2 separate regions of the Homo sapiens genome follow, and region 1 is linked to region 2. The links come from fine-mapping of genetic effects on gene expression. A gene starts in region 2. The other region holds a variant in brackets. All regions are shown on one strand. Distances are from middle to middle. Region 1 overlaps RELA-DT (RELA divergent transcript). Region 2 holds the start of SIPA1 (signal-induced proliferation-associated 1).

Region 1 (8,325 bases), 32 kb before region 2:
ATGCCTGTAATCCCAGCACTTTGGGAGGCTGAGGTGGGTGGATCATAAGGTCAGGAGATTGAGACCATCTTGGCTAACACGGTGAAACCCCATCTCTACTAAAAATAAAAAAAAATAAAAAATAAAAAATTAGCCAGGCATGGTGGCGGGCACCTGTAGTCCCAGCTACTCAGGAGGCTGAGGCAGGAGAATGGCGTGAACCTGGGAGGCGGAGCTTGCAGTGAGCTGAGATCACGCCACTGCACTCCAGCCTGGGTGACAGAGCGAGACTCCATCTCAAATAAATAAATAAATAAATAAATAAATAAATAAATAAATAAAAATAAAAATAAAAAAATTAGTGGGGTGTTATAGTGAGTGCCTGTAGTCTCAGGCCTCAGTCTCCTCAGTCTCCTCTGAAGACTGAAGGGTGAGGATCCCTTGAGCCCAGAAGTTTGGGGCTACAGTGAGCTATGATTGCACTATTGCCCCAGTCTGGGCAACAGAGCAAGATCCCATCTCAAAAAAAAAAAATTAGTTACCTATAGGGGAAGGGAGACAGCAGGTTGGAGAGGACAGGGATAGAAACAAGACTTCTTTTAATATATCTTGTTATATAGATTTGACTTTGGAACGATATAATATTTCACATCATTATGAAGAAAAATAAAACTTTAAAAAGCAATTCCTAAAAAGGGAAAATAAAACTATGTATCAATTTGCTGGTATAACTTTATGGAGATTAACTATTCAAAGAGATTCAAAACAAAGTTATCTGACTATCATCCCTAGTGGGCTATAACCTAAGGACAAGAACTACAAAAATATATTTTCAGAAATCTTATTATGTTGAGTCATAAGTTTTATGAAAAATAAAAAAAGAAAAAAGAAATCATTATGGAGGTAGAGTTGGTATCATTATTCTGAAACTGTTTTGTATACAGTGTGAGATAAAGCAAATGAGTAATGGGTTGGTGTCACTGAGAACTGAGGCTGGGTGCAGTAGCTCATATCTGTAATCCCAGCACTTTGGGAGGCTGAGGTGGGAGGACTGGTTGAGCCCAGAGCCAAGGAGTTCAAGATCAGCCTGGGCAACAGAGCAAGACCCCATTTCTAAAATTAAATAAAAAAACAGAGAAAGAATTGAGATTTTTTAAATTGTGGTTAAATATATATAACATAAAATCTACCATGTTACCCATTTATAAGTGTGCCACTGAATGGCACTTAGTACATTCACACTGTGTGCTACCATCAATCACCACCATCCTGCTCCAGAATCTTTTCATCATCCCCAACATAAACTCTGCATTTGTTAAGCATTAACTCACCATTTCCCCTTCTCTCCAGCTTCTTGTAATGGGTATTCTACTTCCTTTCTCTATGAATTTGACTATTGTAGGTATCTCACATAAGTAGAATCATATAACATTTGTCCTTTTGTGTCTGGATTCTTTGACTCAGCATGTTGCCTTCAAGGCTCCTCAATACAGCATGTATCAGAATTCCCTTCCTTAAGGCTGAATAATATTCCCTTGCATGTATATACCACATTTTGGGGTTTTGTTTTGTTTTGTTTTTGAGATGGAGTCTCACTCTGTCACCCAAGCTGGAGTGCAGTGGTGTGATCTCAGCTCACTACAACCTCTGTCTCCTGGGTTCGCGCAATCCTCCTGCCTCAGCCCTCCAAGTAGCTGGGATTACAGGCGTGCGCCACCACACCCAGCTAATTTTGTATTTTTTTTTTAGTAGAGACAGGGTTTCGTGGGGTTTCACCATGTTGGCCAGGCTGGTCTTGAACTCCTGGCCTCAAGTGATCCACCTGCCTCGGCCTCCCAAAGTGCTGGGATTACAGGCATGAGCCACCGTGCCCGGCCGCATTTTTTTAATCCATTTGCATTAATCCGGGATCTCCAGAACAGAACCAAACAGATACAGATATAAGAGGCGATTTATTATGGGAATTGGATGACAAAGTTATGGAGGCTGAAAAGTCCCACAATCTGCCATCTGCAAGCTGGAAGACCTGGAAAGCCAATGGTGTAATTCATTCCAAGTCCAAAGACCTGAGGACCAGGTGAGCCAATGGTGTAATGTCTCGGAGTCTGAAGGCCTCCAGGAGCTCTGATGTCTGAGAAGTTGGATGTCCCAGCTCAAGAAAGGAGAGAATTCACCTTTTCTTCACCTTTTTGTTCTATTTGCGCCCTCAGTGGATTCGATGATGGCCACCTATGTTGGATAGGGTGGATCCTTTTACTCAGTCTGATTCAAATACTAACCTCTTCCAGAAACACTCTCACAGACATACCCAGAAATAATTTTCTACCAGCTATCCGGGTATTCCCTGGGCTGGTCAAGTTGACACATGAAATTAACTATCACACTGGTCATGCGTCAATGGACATTTGGGTTGTTTCCGCCTTTTGGCTATTGTGAATAATGCCGCTATGAACACTGGTGTACAGATATCAATTTGAGTTCCTGCTTTCAGTAGTTTTGAGTACTATGAAATTTCTGGATCATGTGTTAATTCTGGTTTAATTCTTTTGAGGAACCGCCATACTGTTTTCCAGAGCGACTGCACCATTTTACATTCCCACCAGCAATTCACAAGTGTGCCAATTTCTCCACGTGTTCTCCACATCTCCATATTTCTCAGCAAACAGCTGTTACCTTATTTTTCTGATAACAGCCATCCTAATGGGTGTGAAGTGGTATCTCTTTGTGTGTTTTTTTTTGTTGTTTTTTTGTTTTGTTTTGTTTTGAGATGGAGTCTCGTTCTGTTGCCCAGGCTGGAGTGCAGTGGCGCGATCTCGGCTCACTGCAAGCTCCGCCTCCCGGGTTCACACCATTCTCCTGCCTCAGCCTCCCGAGTAGCTGGGACTACAGGTGCCCGCCACCATGACCGGCTAATTTTTTGTATTTCTAGTAGAGATGGGGTTTCACCGTGTTAGCCAGGATGGTTTCGATCTCCTGATCTCGTGATCCGCCCGCCTCGGCCTCCCAAAGTGCTGGGATTACTACAGGCGTGAGCCACGGCGCCCGGCCTATTATTAGTTCTTTATATGTTCTAGGTATTAATCCTTATCAGATATGTAATTTGAAATATTTCCTACCATTCTGTGGGTTGATTTTTTACTTCAGTATATTGTATTTGATGTACAAAAGTTTTTAATTTTTATAAGCCTAATTTATTTTTTTCTTTTGTGGTCTGTGCTTTTATGTTGTATCCAAGAAATCACTGCCAAATTCAATGTCATGAATATTATACAACATAAATGATAACATATAAACAATAAAAACGTAAATAATAACATATAAGCAATCAAAAACATGGGGCACTATGTTTTTTTCTGAGTTTATAGTTTTAGGTCCTACATTTAGGTATTTGGTCCCTTTTTAGCTCTTTATTTTATTTATTTTTTTTTTTGAGACAGAGTCTCGCTTTGTCGCCCAGGCTGGAGTACAGTGGCGCGATCTCGGCTCACTGCAAGCTCCACCTCCCAGGTTCACGCCATTCTCCTGCCTCAGCCTCCTGACTAGCTGGGACTACAGGCACCTGCCACCGTGCCCGGCTAATTTTTTTTTGTATTTTTA[G/A]TAGAGACAGGGTTTCACCGTTTTAGCCAGGATGGTCTCGATCTCCTGACCTCGTGATCCGCCCGCCTCAGCCTCCCAAAGTGCTGGGATTACAGGCGTGAGCCACCGCGCCCGGCCCCAGTTCTTTATTTTTTTGAGACAGCGTCACACTCTGTCGCTTAGGCTGGAGTGCAGTGGCATGGCTCACTGCTGTGAACTCGAACTCCTGGGCTCAAGCAATCCGTCTCAACCTCCTGAGTAGCTGGGACTACAGGCATGCACCACCATGCCCAGCTAATTTTTTTCTTTTTTTTTTTTTTCTTTTGTAGAGATAGGATCTCACTATGTTGACCAGGCTGGTTTCAAACTCCTGGGCTCAAGTGATCTTCCCGCCTTGGCTTCCCAAAGTGCGGGAATTACTGATGTGAGTCACCAGGTCCAGCCATTTGAACCATTTTGAGTTAATTTTTGTATATAGTGTTAGGTAAGGGTCAACTTCATTCTTTTGCATGTGGATACCCAATTTTCCCAAAACCATTTGTTGAAAAGATTGTCCTTTCCCCCAGTGAATGGTCTTGGCGCCCTTGTTGAAAATCATTCAGCCGTATATGGAAAGGTTTTATTTTTATGGGCTCCCTATTCTGTACAATTGGTCATATGTCTGTCTTTATTTTTTTTGGAGACAGAGTTTCACTCTTGTTGCTCAGGCTGGAGTGTAATGGCTCAATCTCGGCTCACTGCAATCTCCACCTCCCGGGTTCAAGCGATTCTCCTGCCTCAGCCTCCCAAGTAGCTGTAATTTCAGGCATGGGCCACCATGCCCGGCTAATTTTGTATTTTTAGTAGAGACGGGGTTTCTCCATGTTAGTTAGGCTGGTCTTGAACTCCTGCCTCAGCCTCCCAAAGTGCTGGGATTACAGACGTGAGCCACCACGCCCGGCCTATATGTCTGTCTTTATGCTAGAATCACACTGTTTTGATTACTGTAGCTTTGTAGTAAGTTTTGAAATCAGGAAGTATGAGTCCTCCACCTTTGTTTCTTTTTTTTAAGATTGTTTTGGTTATTTGGGTCCCTTGAGACTCCATATGGACTTAATTTAAGAGTGGACTTTTCTATTCCCTCAAAAGAAAATCAAGATTTTTGACATGGGAGAAACATGTAAAGTGACTAAGGTTAAGTTAAAACCCTGTAATTCTAGCTGGGCGCGGTGGCTCACACCCGTAATCCCTGCACTTTGGGAGGCTGAGGCACGTGGATCACGAGGTCAGGAGTGTAAAACCAGCCTGGCCAAGATGGTGAAACCCCGTCTCTACTAAAAATATAAAAATTAGCCAGGCATTGTGGCAGGTGCCTGTAATTCCAGCTACTCAGGAGGCTGAGGCAGAGAACTGCTTGAACCCACAAGGCAGAGGTTACAGTGAGCCTGGGCAACAGAGCAAGACTCCATCTCAAAAAAAAATAATAATAATAAATAAATAAAATTTAAAAACCCTATAATTCTAAATTTGAATATGAAACATTAGTATGAACTCCTGATGCATTTCGTATTTAAAAAAAATTACAGCCAGGTGCGGTAGCTCACGCCTGTAATTCCAGCACTTTGGGAGGCCAAGGCAGGCAGATGACAAGGTCAGGACAGGAGATCGAGACCATCCTGGCCAACATGGTGAAACCCCGTCTCTACTAAAATACAAAAAAATTAGCAGGGTGTGGTGGCGCGTGCCTGTAGTCCCAGCTACTCAGCAGGCTGAGGCAGGGGAATTGCTTGAACCTGGGAGGCAGAGGTTGCAGTGAGCCGAGATCGCGCCACTGCACTCCAGCCTGGCGAATGAGCAAGACTCCATCTCAAAAAAAAAAATTACCAGCTAGGCTGGGCACAATGGCTCATGCCTGTAATTCCAACACTTTGGGAAGCTGAGGCAAGAGGAGTGCTAGAGCCCAGGAGTACAAGATGAGCCTGGGCAACATAGTGAGACCTCTTCTCTACTAAAAAATAAAAAATTAGCTGAGCATGGTGGTGTGTGCCTGTAGTCCCAGCTACTGGGGGACCTGAGGAGGGAGAATCACTTGAGCCTAGGAGTTCGAGCCTGCAATGGGCTATGATCACACCACCACTGCAATCCAGCCTGGATGACAGAGCAAGACTCCCATTTTTTAAAAAATTACTGGCTGGGCATGGTGGCTCACGCCTGTAATTCCAACACTTTGGGAGGCCGAGGCGGGCAGGTCACTTGAGGTCAGGAGTTGGAGACCAGCCTGACCAACATGGAGAAACCCTGTCTTTACTAACAATACAAAATTAGCCGGGCGTGGTAGCGCATGCCTGTAATCCCAGCAACTCGGGAGGCTGAGGCAGGAGAATCACTTGAACCCGGGAGGCGGAGGTTGCAGTGAGCCAAGATCATGCCATTGCACTCCAGCCTGGGCAACAAGAGTGAAACTCTGTCTCAAAAAAAAAAAAAAAAAAAAAAAGTACTAACTATTCACCGAAAACATCTACAATGACTGACTCAGTAGCAATAAGTATCCGAAGTACTCAAGCTGTAGTCTTTAAATATCATTTCCTACTAAGAGAAATCAGGACTCCTTGGAAAGCTGTCTGATTCCAGATCTGGGGCAGAAAATTTACTAGATGAGTCTAGAAATATCTTTTCAGGCCAGGCGCTGTGGCTCATGCCTGTAATCCCAGCACTGTGGGAGGCCAAGGCAGGTGGATCACCTGAGGTCAGGAGTTCGAGACCAACCTGACCAATATGGAAACCCCATCTCTACTAAAAATACAAAAATTAGCTGGGCGTGGTGGCACACTCCCATAATCCCAGCTACTTGGGAGGCTGAGGCAGGAGAATTGCTTGCACCCGGGAGGCAGAGGTTGCAGTGAGCCGAGATTGCACCATTGCACTCCAGCCTGGGCAGTAAGAGCGAAACTCCATCTCAAAAAAAAAAAAGGAAAAAGAAAAGAAATATCTTTTCATACCAAACAGCAAAGAAGCTATCACAGGCTACTGTAATTGCTTTTTTAAAATTATTTTTTTAATAGACATAGGGATCTTGCCATGTTGACCAGGCTGGTCTTAAACTCCTGGCCTCAATCAGTCTTCCCCATTCAGCCTTCCAAAGTGCTGGGATTACAGGTATGAGCCACCAAGACTCATATATTGGAATTGTGTCAAAAGGACTGAAGAACAACCAACTTGAAGAAGTTCTCCCTAACCAAAGACGAATAATTTGAATTTCAATAACTATACTTGATTAAAACACAGCTAATATATTTAAATCCATGCATTCATTAAGATTTTAAAAAACTCAGCCGGGTTTGGTAGTTCATGCCTGTAATCCTAACACTTTGGGAGGCTGAGACAGAAGGATCGCCTGAGCTCAGAGGTTCGAGACCAGCCTTGGCAACATAGCAAGATCTTGTGTCTACTAAAAATTAAAAAAAAGAAATTAGCTGAGTGTGGTGGTGCACGCTGTTAGTCCTAGCTACTTGGGAGGCTAAGGTGGGAGGATTGCTTGAGCCCAGGAGTTTGAGGCTGCAGTGAGCAACGAGTCATGCCACAGCATTCCAGCATGGCGACAGAGTGAGACCCTGCCTCAAAAAATTGTTTTCTTTTTAATTAGCTGTGTGTGGTGGTGAGTGCTTATAGTCCCAGCTACCTGGGAGGCCGAGGTAAGAGGATCCCAACTGATAGGGGCGTTGGTGGGAGAAAAAGTAGGTTTACTGATTTATTCTGAAAGCCAGCAAGACTGAGAGGACGGTGTACTAGCGTTCTAAAGTACCATTTTAAGTCAGTACAATCTTAGGCTCTTTCTATGTTAAGGGCAGGGAAGAGAAGGAGGGTGTGGTCAAGAAGTACCCCATGGCAGACATCTGGGCAGCAGCGAGGGTCTGAGGAGGTTGGGAACTTCTTTGTCCTTGGTCCAGTCACAATGCTCCTATAAATCTTTAAGAAAACATAGTTGTTTACATACTTCTTTAACCCCAGACTAAGTTTTAAAAACTACATGATTGCTGTTTTTATATATTACTCAGTGCTCTAAAGCTTATGGCAGCAAAAAATTAGAAGTCCAAATGCCCATGGCTGGGCACGGTAGCTCACGCCTGTAATAGCACTTTAGGAGGCCGAGACGGGCAGATCACCTGAGGTCAGGAGTTAGAGACCACCCTGGCCAACATGGTGAAACCCTGTCTCTACTAAAAGTACAAAATTAGTCAGATGCAGTGGTTCATGCCTGTAATCCCAACATTTTCAGAGGCTGAGGCAGGTGGATCACCTAAGGTCAGGAGTTTGAGACCAGCCTGGCCAACATGGTGAAACCCCGTCTCTACTAAAAATACAAAAAGTTAGCCAGGCATGGTGGCAGGCACCTGTAATCCCAGCTACTCAGGTGGCTGAGGCAGGAGAATCACTTGAACCTGGGAGGCAGAGGTTGCTGTGAGCCGAGATTGTGCCATTGCACACAACAAGAGCGAAACTCTGTCTCAAAAGAAAAAAAAAATACAAAATTAGCCGGGCATGGTGATGCATACCTGTAATCCTAGCTACTCAGGAGGCTAAGGCAGGAGAATCACTTGAACCTGGGAGGCAGAGGTTGCAGTGAGCCGAGATGGTGCTATTGCACTCCAGCCTGGGCCACAAGAGAGGAACTCCATCTCAAAAAAATAAAAATAAAAATGCCTATCTTCAGGATGAATAAACAAACTGTGGTATATTTACACAACAAAATAGTATACAGCAGTGAAAAAGTGAATTAACTGTGAAACATGA
Region 2 (8,268 bases):
ATAGTGGGCAAACCATCGAGGCTCAAGCACTGGTGGGAAGGCAGGCTCTGGTTCCTCTGCTGGCAGCCCCAGCAGTGCCAGCGGGTCAGTGAAGAGCCGGGTGGAAGTGGCTGCAGGTCGGCTGGCCTCTTCGTGGCTGTGGGCACGGGCACGGGGGCTGGCTGGCGTGGGGGGCCTGGCCTCGCCTGCATCGCTGCCGCTGCGCAGGAGTGGGCCCCGGACTGGCCTCGGCTCGAAGGTGTGCGGTGTCAGCGGGGGCCTTGCTGGCTGGCGCAGCTTGCGGGCAAAGAGGTCATCTGTGGACGCAGGGGCCATGCCCCGCCGAGGGCTCCCCACACCGCCGGCCCACATGGGCATGCTCTGTGGGCCTGACTCTCCGGGGGCTGGGCCGCATTGGCGGGCACGGGTGTTTGGTGCCCAGCCTGAGGTTGTGGCAGCAGTTCCTGCCCTGAAGGAGGAGGGGGCTGCTCAGAGGGGCCTGGGCAGAAAACAGGAACCCAGGCCCCCAGCCTGGTCCTCCACCACCCGTGTTGGCTTCCGGCCCCCTCCGAGACCATCAAAGCTGCTTCCGCTTTCCAGGCCACTTCCTTGTCTGCCTAGGGCTAAAGTTTCCAGCCCCCTCCCCAGCTTAGCTGGGCAAGGCTAGAGGCTGGGCTGTTGGGTCTTGGTCCTGAGGGTCCTGGAGCCTGGGCAGCCCTGGGACTGCCAGGGTCCCCCAGTCGCCACCCACACACCTTAGCTTTGGCCTGGGCCCAGAGTAAGGGTCCCACCAGGACCTAGCCCAACCGGACAGATGACTTGTATTGGCTGGGACGGGAAACCCAGGGGCCACTGGTGTCTGGGTCCTGCCCACTTAACAAAGGGAGGACGTCCTGTCCCCAGAGACCTTCCTCCTTGCCCCTCCCACTTCCTTCAGGGTCCCTGGAGAGCTGATCACCCAGAGAGGTCTGATCTCAGTGCCCTGGACCTCAAGGCCTCAATACCACAAGGACACATGGGTTCCCAGGGAGGCAGCGGCAGGGCAGCAGGAATGGCAAGAGGACTTCCTTCAGCACAGGAAGTAGCCCCAACTGTGGGCCCAGCCCTCTGCCAGGCCCCCACATCCTGAGGAAGGTGCTGGGGTCACAGCAGCTGTCATGGGACCCCAGTCACCCTGCCCTGAAGGACAGGCCAACTCACCTTCTTGCAGGCTACTGTGCCCAGGCTTGGGGGCAAGAGGAGTCACAATGACAGGGACCCATAGGGACCTCTGCCTACCTGGTCTCACTGATGCAGACAGGGAGGTCTGAACCCCATGTGACAGATGGTCAGATGAGGTCCAGAGGAGATGCTCTTGCCTGAAGCAATTCCGTGTCAGAGCTAGGATGTGAGCCTGGGTCTGCCCATCTCCAGGCCCTAAGCAGGGCTGCACCTGCCCACTGCTGTCTGTGTGCGTAGGTTTTGGGGGGTGGGTGTTGGGCTGAGGTTCAAGGTCTCACAGGATGCAAGATTGAGACACCCAAAGCCCCAGGGACCTGCTAAGTGCGGAAACGTGACGCCAGAGGCAGGTGCAAATGGTGGTGTGAGAACTTGAGGGAAGCCACACCCAGGCAAGCCCTGGATGGAGTAGGCAGTGAGGACAGGGAGCTGGGGAACCTCCACTGGGGGTACAGGCATCTAATGGTGGGTCTTCATGCAGCATCCAGCAACATCATGCGGGGCTGGGCCGGAGGGGGGTGGAGGAGGGGCTCCACACACCCTTCGTCTGGGGCCTCCAGAACCAAGCAAGAGTCGGCTCCCCAGCCCAGGTGCTTCTACCTTGATTTCTCCTGAATAAACTCCCATGCTGACCTTGAGCCTCTGTTTTCTCATCTCTAAAATGGGGTTAACTGGCCGGGTGCGGTGGCTGTGGCCTGTAATCCCAGCACTTTGGGAGGCCAAGGCGGGGGGATCACCTGAGGTCAGGAGTTCAAGACCAGCCTAGCTAACATGGTGAAACCCTGTCTCTACTAAAAACATAAAAATTAGCCGGGTGTGGTGGTGCGCACCTGTAGTCCCAGCCACTCAGGAGGCTGAGGCAGGAGAATCGCTTAAACCTGGGAGGCAGAGGTTGCAGTGAGCCGAGATCGCGCCACTGAACTCCAGCCTGCGGGACAGAGTGAGACTGTCTCCAAAAAAACAAAGAAAAAAATTGGGTTTAATTATTTCTGTCCCCTCCCAAGGCTGCTGAGAGACTGAGAAGAATGAGGTGAGTGTCGCTAGCTATGTGTGTGTGTGACGGGTGTAGCCCCTGGCTCCATGAGCCAAGCTCTGGGCACATTCAGCGCTCGGGCCTGGGCTATAGTGTGTGAAGGAGTAGGAGGGCATGAGGGAGGGGGTCTGTGCAAGCCCCGCTCCTTGTGGGCTGAGCTCTGCACGCTTGGAAGTGAGATCTGTGCATGTGTGCACCCAGCCTGTGCGCTGCCTCTTGCTGTGGCCCAGTGCCAGGCTCTGGCGCTGCCTTGAGGGGTGTTCTCGGGCTCTGCCCCCCACCCTGAAGCTTCACACAGGGTCCATTGAGGCTAGGACATTCCTCCGGGCCTGTGTCACTAGGGGTGGGGGGAAAGGGCCGGCCCCGCCCCCACAGATCCGGAAGGCCTGGCTGCCCCAGGAGGAGGAGCTGGCCACTTCCCAGCACATCTGGAGGTCATGACCCCATTTCGGCTGCCAGGGGGCGCGACAGATGTTTCCTCCCAGGCCAGGCCAGGGACTGGGGTGGAGGCCGCCTAAGAAGAAGAGGAGCCTCAGAATAAGGGGGAGCCCCGCACACACTTGCAGTGTTGAGGGGGAGGGGGTCACAGTGCCGCCACCAGGAGTCAGGAGCCGCCGCTTCCACTCACCGGCTGGCTGGCCAGGCTAAGCCGTCACACAGAGAGAGTAGGAACGGCTGGTCAGAGACAGGGGGCTGGACATATTGACTCGGGACTGAGCTGGAGCCCGGAGGGAAGTTGGGAGGGTGCTGGCGGCGAACGTGGCGAGGACCCCACTCCCATACACATCACCCGGGCCCACGGCTAGGCCACCTCTCCCCTGTCGGGCCCGACAGTAGTGCCTCCCGTCCCCTGCTCCCGCCAGTACCTCTGGGGCTCCCGCCCAGCCGCCGCCGCCCGCGCTGGGGTCCCGCTGCCGCTCTCCCGCTACCGCTCCCGGCGCCGGCTCCGCCTGGGGGCGGGGCCATGCTGGGAGGCGGGGCCATGCCGGGAGGCGGGGCCGGCCGGGAGCTGTCTGCGGCGGGAAGCGCAGCAGCGGGGATTCCAGGCCTGGCGGAGGTCAGCACCGAGCAGTGCTCATTCTAAGGCCATTTCCTCTCCTGAGAAACTTGTGCCTGCCTTCCAGACCAACCGGGAGGGCTAGCGGAGGCCACCTAGCGTCCAGCTCCCGGCCAGCAGGTGCTCAAGAGTCTGCCACTATTTTATGGAGCACTTGCTAAGCACTGGGCCCTGGGCAACCATTCCACTAGCGCGCTCTCATTTATTCTAAAAACACCTTAGATAGGTGTCATCTCTTTACGCCCTGGAGCAGCTGAGGTGCAGAGAAAGGCTTTGGCCAAGAACAAGCCTGATAAATGTAGGAGCCACCAGACCTGGAAGTCTGACCATATGGTGGGAAATGGCAGACAATACCCTTCAGATAAAGGCTTGAAAAGGGAGCAGCCATGCGGTGAAGAGGACCCGGTTCTACCTGAACCCCACCTTGGTCTGCCCTTGATCTCTACTAGACTTCAGCCCCACATCCTTCACCCCTCTGCGTGCTTGTCCATCCCAACTTAGCCGCCTGTACTATCATGTACCCATTCCCAGGTAGAAAAAGAAACTGCCAACCAAAATCAAAAATAGTGTTATTAATTCTGATGTCTCCGAAGCACAAAAAAAAAAAAAAAAAAGAAAAGAAAAAAAAGGAAAGAAAGAAACCACCCTTCCCACAATTCAGGCCCCAGGTCCAGGCCAAGGGGGCCACACCTGCAGGCAGTGCAGGCCCAGGGGCTGAGGTGGTCCTGGCCACAGGCTCCAAGTGGGACCAGCCCATGGTTTGGCTCTTAGGGCCTGGCTGGGAGGCTGACTGCCTCCATCTGGGGAGCCCAGGCCCTGGACTGGGGATGAGAGAGATCAGGGGTCAAGGTCAGAGGTCTGGGTCACTCAGTTTTGGTACTCTGGCCAAGGCAGCCAAAGGTCAGGGTTCAGACATGTAGGCCAAAGCCACTCAGTTCTGTGGTCCAGCAGAGAGGCAGCAGAGCAGGTCCGTTACTGAATCCTAGGAGGTGGTCCAGTGGGCGCCAGGTAGCTCAGTACTGGTGTTCCAGCAGGGGCTGGGCTGCCGGGCTCTCACGCTCCTCAATAGGGGCAGGCCAGTCGCCCAGGGCACCCATAGGTGTGCCACTCTCAGGGGCACTGCTGTCCAAGCAAGGAATGTCCTGGGAAGCTCTGGGGGGTGAGGCCTCAGTGCTGACATCGGGGCTGAGGCTGAGGCTGAGGCTGAGGCTGAGGTCTAGAGGCGCCTGGGGGAGGGGGGAGAGGTTGGCGGGTGAGCAGGCCTTAGCCTTCTGGGACCCAACCCTCCCACAGGTGCCTTACCTGAGATTTGGGGGTACCTCCTTTGGGGCTCCCTGAGGCTGGCTCCCCGTCAGATCCTCCCAGCCCCTTCCGGCCCCCCAGGCTCCACTTTCCACTGGGGCCCTCAGAACTGAGGAGACCCGGGCCAGGGGGCCGTGAGGTCCGGGGACCCTCTGTGGGGATAGGCGATGCAGGGGGTGGTCCAGGGAGCCGAGGGGGAGGCCACTGCAGCAGAGGTGGGGGCCGCCCATCACCAGAGCCACTCAGGGAGGACCGCGGCCCCCAGCCAGGGCCTGGTGGGAGGGGTTGGTCACCATTGCCTGTAGGAGACAGATAAGACAGCAGAGGCCTCAGCTGGGCTGCACTCCTCACCCACGGGTTCAGCCCAGCCTCGCCTGCTCACCTGCCGTGTTCTCAGGTGTGGGGTGTGCCACGGGGGGGTTATTGCTGAGGGAGGTCAGGCCACCGCCCCCACTACAGTCTGAATCATCCACGTTCCCGCCACTATTGCAGCCGGCGCCACAGCCCTTGTGAAGCCTGGGGGTGGAGAGGTAGAAAAGGGATCAGGAGGGACACGGCTGAGGCCAGAGGCCTCACAAGCATGAGTCCTCAGCCCCAGGACAAGTCATCTAACACCTCTGAGCCCCAGGATCCTCCCCTCTAAGAAGCTGCCACCTACTTTGCAGAGTCTTTTGAGGGTGCGTTGTCAACAGTGCTTGATGACTAAAGGCCACTGTCAGCTCTGGGGGTAAGGTGACATCTAGGAGGGGCAGGTCAGCTCTGGGAGGGGGTCATCTCTCGGGATTCAAGCCCTGGCTCCAGCACGTCCTCCCTCTGAGACCCAGGAGGGACGTACTGCACCTCAGCTTCCTCCCGCGCCACACGTCACCCCTTCCCGAGGCCTCACCTCTCCCAGGTGCGCAGGAGCCAGTGGGCAATGGCACCCAGGCTGATGGGGCCACCCCACAGTGCCCGTAGCTGGGGGTGGCTGCCAGCCAGCGAGGTGGTGAGAGGCGACACGTAGATGGGGTAGCCCAGCGGCTGGTCACAGGAGGAGTTGATCATGTTGCGAAGCGCCTGCTTGGCGTTCTGGATGCTGCCACGCTCGGGGTTGCGGTTGCGCAGGAACACCAGCTCCTGCTGCTGCCCGGCCCACAGGCCGCGCACGCACTCCCGGTTCACCTGAGAGCCACACGCCAGGGTCAGGGGGCCGGCCCAAGGGGGTTTGGGGCAGGGCTTAGGGCAGGTGGGGCCGGCCCAACCTTGATGACTCGGAAGCTGAGGTGGCGCCGGTTGAGCATGATGATCTTGTACTCGTCGGAGGCATCATCCAGGACATGGCGCAGCGCCAGCAGGGAGGGCGTGTTGCTGAGGATGGCGCTGCGCCATGCTGGGTCACCCTCATGTGAGATGACCAGCCGCTCCTCGTTGGCCGCAATGGCATCGTATAGGGCTGCTGGCTCCTCATATTCATCTGGGGACGTGAAGTGGTCCTGGTAGAGAAGACGGGAACAGGGGTCAGTGGCCCCTGCCCTGGAGAGAGGCTTCATCCCCCACCTGCCCATGCTGCTGGGCACACCCCTCCCCAACCTGGTGAAGCTTGAGGGCCATGCGAACCCCAGGCGCCACAACGCGGTGAAGCAGGTCCATGTCGGCAAAGACCCACTCGTCACGTGGGGAGGTGATGCGAAAATCCCCCTTGAACAGGGCGTGCAGGCCGTAGAGGAAGGGCTCCAGGCTAAGTGGGAGGAAAAACAGGGAGGGGAGAGAGGGGTGTCGAGGACCCAGGGGTAAGGCTTCAGAGTGATCCAAGCAGAGGCCTTTCCTCACGCTGAGCCTCAGTTTCCCCATCTTGACAAAGAGGCCAATCTCTGCCCATGTCTCTCACAGAGCACTGAGGAGCAGGCAAGGTCATGACCAGGAAGTGCCCTGCCCGTGGGAGAAGAGGTACCCCAACAGGAAGGGCCACTGCAGTTTCTGTGGCCACTGTGGCCAGAGACCACAGTGCTCTTCGTGGAAGAGGTGGGGTGGGGACGGCAGTAGGCCCCGCGGGACACCCGAGCACTCACCTTGCAGACATGCTGTGAGAGGCTGTCCCCAGGGCCCGGCGGCCCAGCACACACAGGCCAAAACACAGCGTGACCAGCGGGGAGTTCCAATCCTGGTCCACGGGCTGTGGCATAAGGACCCCCATCCCAGAGCCCAGCTCAGACCTGGGACAGGGACCTTGGAGTGGGGGCTGGGGCTCAGGCTAAGGGAGGCTCAGAGTGAGAGGAAACCAAATGGGGAGAAGGGGAGCAGGGAAGCCCAGGTCCCACAGCCCCAGGTGGCAGCCTCAGGTAGTGGAGCCTGACCTGGCTGCGCCGGGAGGCGCAGTACTGGATCCACTCGAGGTGCACAGCACAAAAGGAGGGCAGCGAGAGGCCAGACAGGCGGAGGTCATAGTCCTCATCCACACTCAGCGAGAAGGTGGGATCCGAGTCGGCATAGCCGGGCACCCGCACAGGCCTCAGGGCTGCCGTGATGCCCTCATGGCTGAGCCACACCTCCAGCTTTGGTGAGCGGCTCACGTAGTAGATGATGCTCTGGGAGAGGAGGGGCAGGCGTCAGGCCGGGGTCCCGGCCCTGGCCACTGGAGGAGAAAGCATGGAGGTTCAGAGGCTCCTCCCCAAGACTGAGCTGAAGTCCGCTTTCTGGGATGCCCCGCTCCTAGAGCCATCTCAGCTCTCAAGAGCAACCAAGCAAGTTGGCTCCTTCCCCTAGACCAGGGAGGAGTGACAAAGCCGCCAGGAAGCACCCACTTACAGAGCAGGAAGTCCTGTGCTGGGGCTAGCACTCACAAGCAGCATCTGCCTGCCTCTGCCCTAGAATATGCCCCGTTTGTATGAGAAATTGAGGCTCAAACAAATGGCAGCCCCCAACGAGAACAAGATCATCACACTCAACATTTACCACCTCAGCTTCCAAGTCATCAAGGTGGAGCTGGCCCCACCTGCCCTGAACCCTGTCCCCCACCCGCCTCTGGCTGGCCCCGACACTATGGTGTGGCCCTCAGGTGAACCTTCAGTGCCTGTGCAGCACGTGGGCCAGGTAGCAGCAGGAGCTGGTGTTCCTGCACAAACATAACCCCGAGCGCGGGAGCATCCAGATGTCACATGGGCAGGGGGCGGGGAGCGAGTGGGGCAGAACAGACTGAACTGCCGCCTGAACCCCGGACCTTCCCCATCATGACATTGTGGGATCCAGATCTCGGGGCCGGAAGGGCAGGCTGAAGTAGTGGGCCTGCCTCAGAGTGCCTGGGTCACAGGTCCCTTTAGGCAGCTGAAGCATGACAGCCATCAGGCCTCGCCTCAGAAAAAAGCCACGGGCACATGTGGTACCCAAAGCTGGGGGCTCCTGGACCTCTTGTTAAAAGGCCCTGTTGGGCAAAAGTACAGGAGCTTTGGAAGACAGGTAGCTGGCATGGCCAGGATGCACGGGCGGGTTAAGGCCGGCAGGGCAGCCAGTGAGGTGATGGGGATTCCATGTGCCACCCTAAGATGGAGCTAATGGGGCAGGCCCTTTGCCAGGGCAGACCCGCTCCAGACTGACTTTCTTGCCCATAGCTCGCCTCTACAATCCAGGCACCACCAGAGCTGCTAAAAAGACCCAGAAAAGAAAAGCTTCAGCCAGACAGGGTGGCTCACACCTGTAATCCCAG

Evidence for each region.
Region 1: its variant is fine-mapped to the expression of SIPA1 in whole blood (TOPMed, PIP above 0.99).

Annotation. Positions count from the first base shown.
Region 1 is chr11:65,665,306-65,673,630 of GRCh38, reverse strand. RELA-DT (RELA divergent transcript) reads right to left here. Exons shown (of 4, transcript NR_183625.1): 2 at 8,088-8,185; 3 at 7,414-7,500; 4 at 1,913-2,208. Among named protein-coding and RNA genes, the nearest start is that of RELA-DT, 6.5 kb to the right of the region's middle. The variant G/A (reference allele first, on the strand shown) is at 3,577.
Region 2 is chr11:65,633,011-65,641,278 of GRCh38, reverse strand. SIPA1 (signal-induced proliferation-associated 1) reads right to left here and starts at 3,178. Exons shown (of 16, transcript NM_006747.4): 1 at 3,097-3,178; 2 at 1-448. The coding sequence starts at 357. PCNX3 (pecanex 3) reads right to left here. Exons shown (of 35, transcript NM_032223.4): 28 at 6,923-7,153; 29 at 6,638-6,741; 30 at 6,159-6,306; 31 at 5,831-6,061; 32 at 5,476-5,750; 33 at 4,972-5,105; 34 at 4,590-4,888; 35 at 3,840-4,513. The coding sequence ends at 4,301. MIR4690 (microRNA 4690) reads right to left here and starts at 4,969; the gene lies at 4,910-4,969. RefSeq lists enhancers at 2,546-2,615, 3,567-4,357 and a silencer at 2,966-3,335.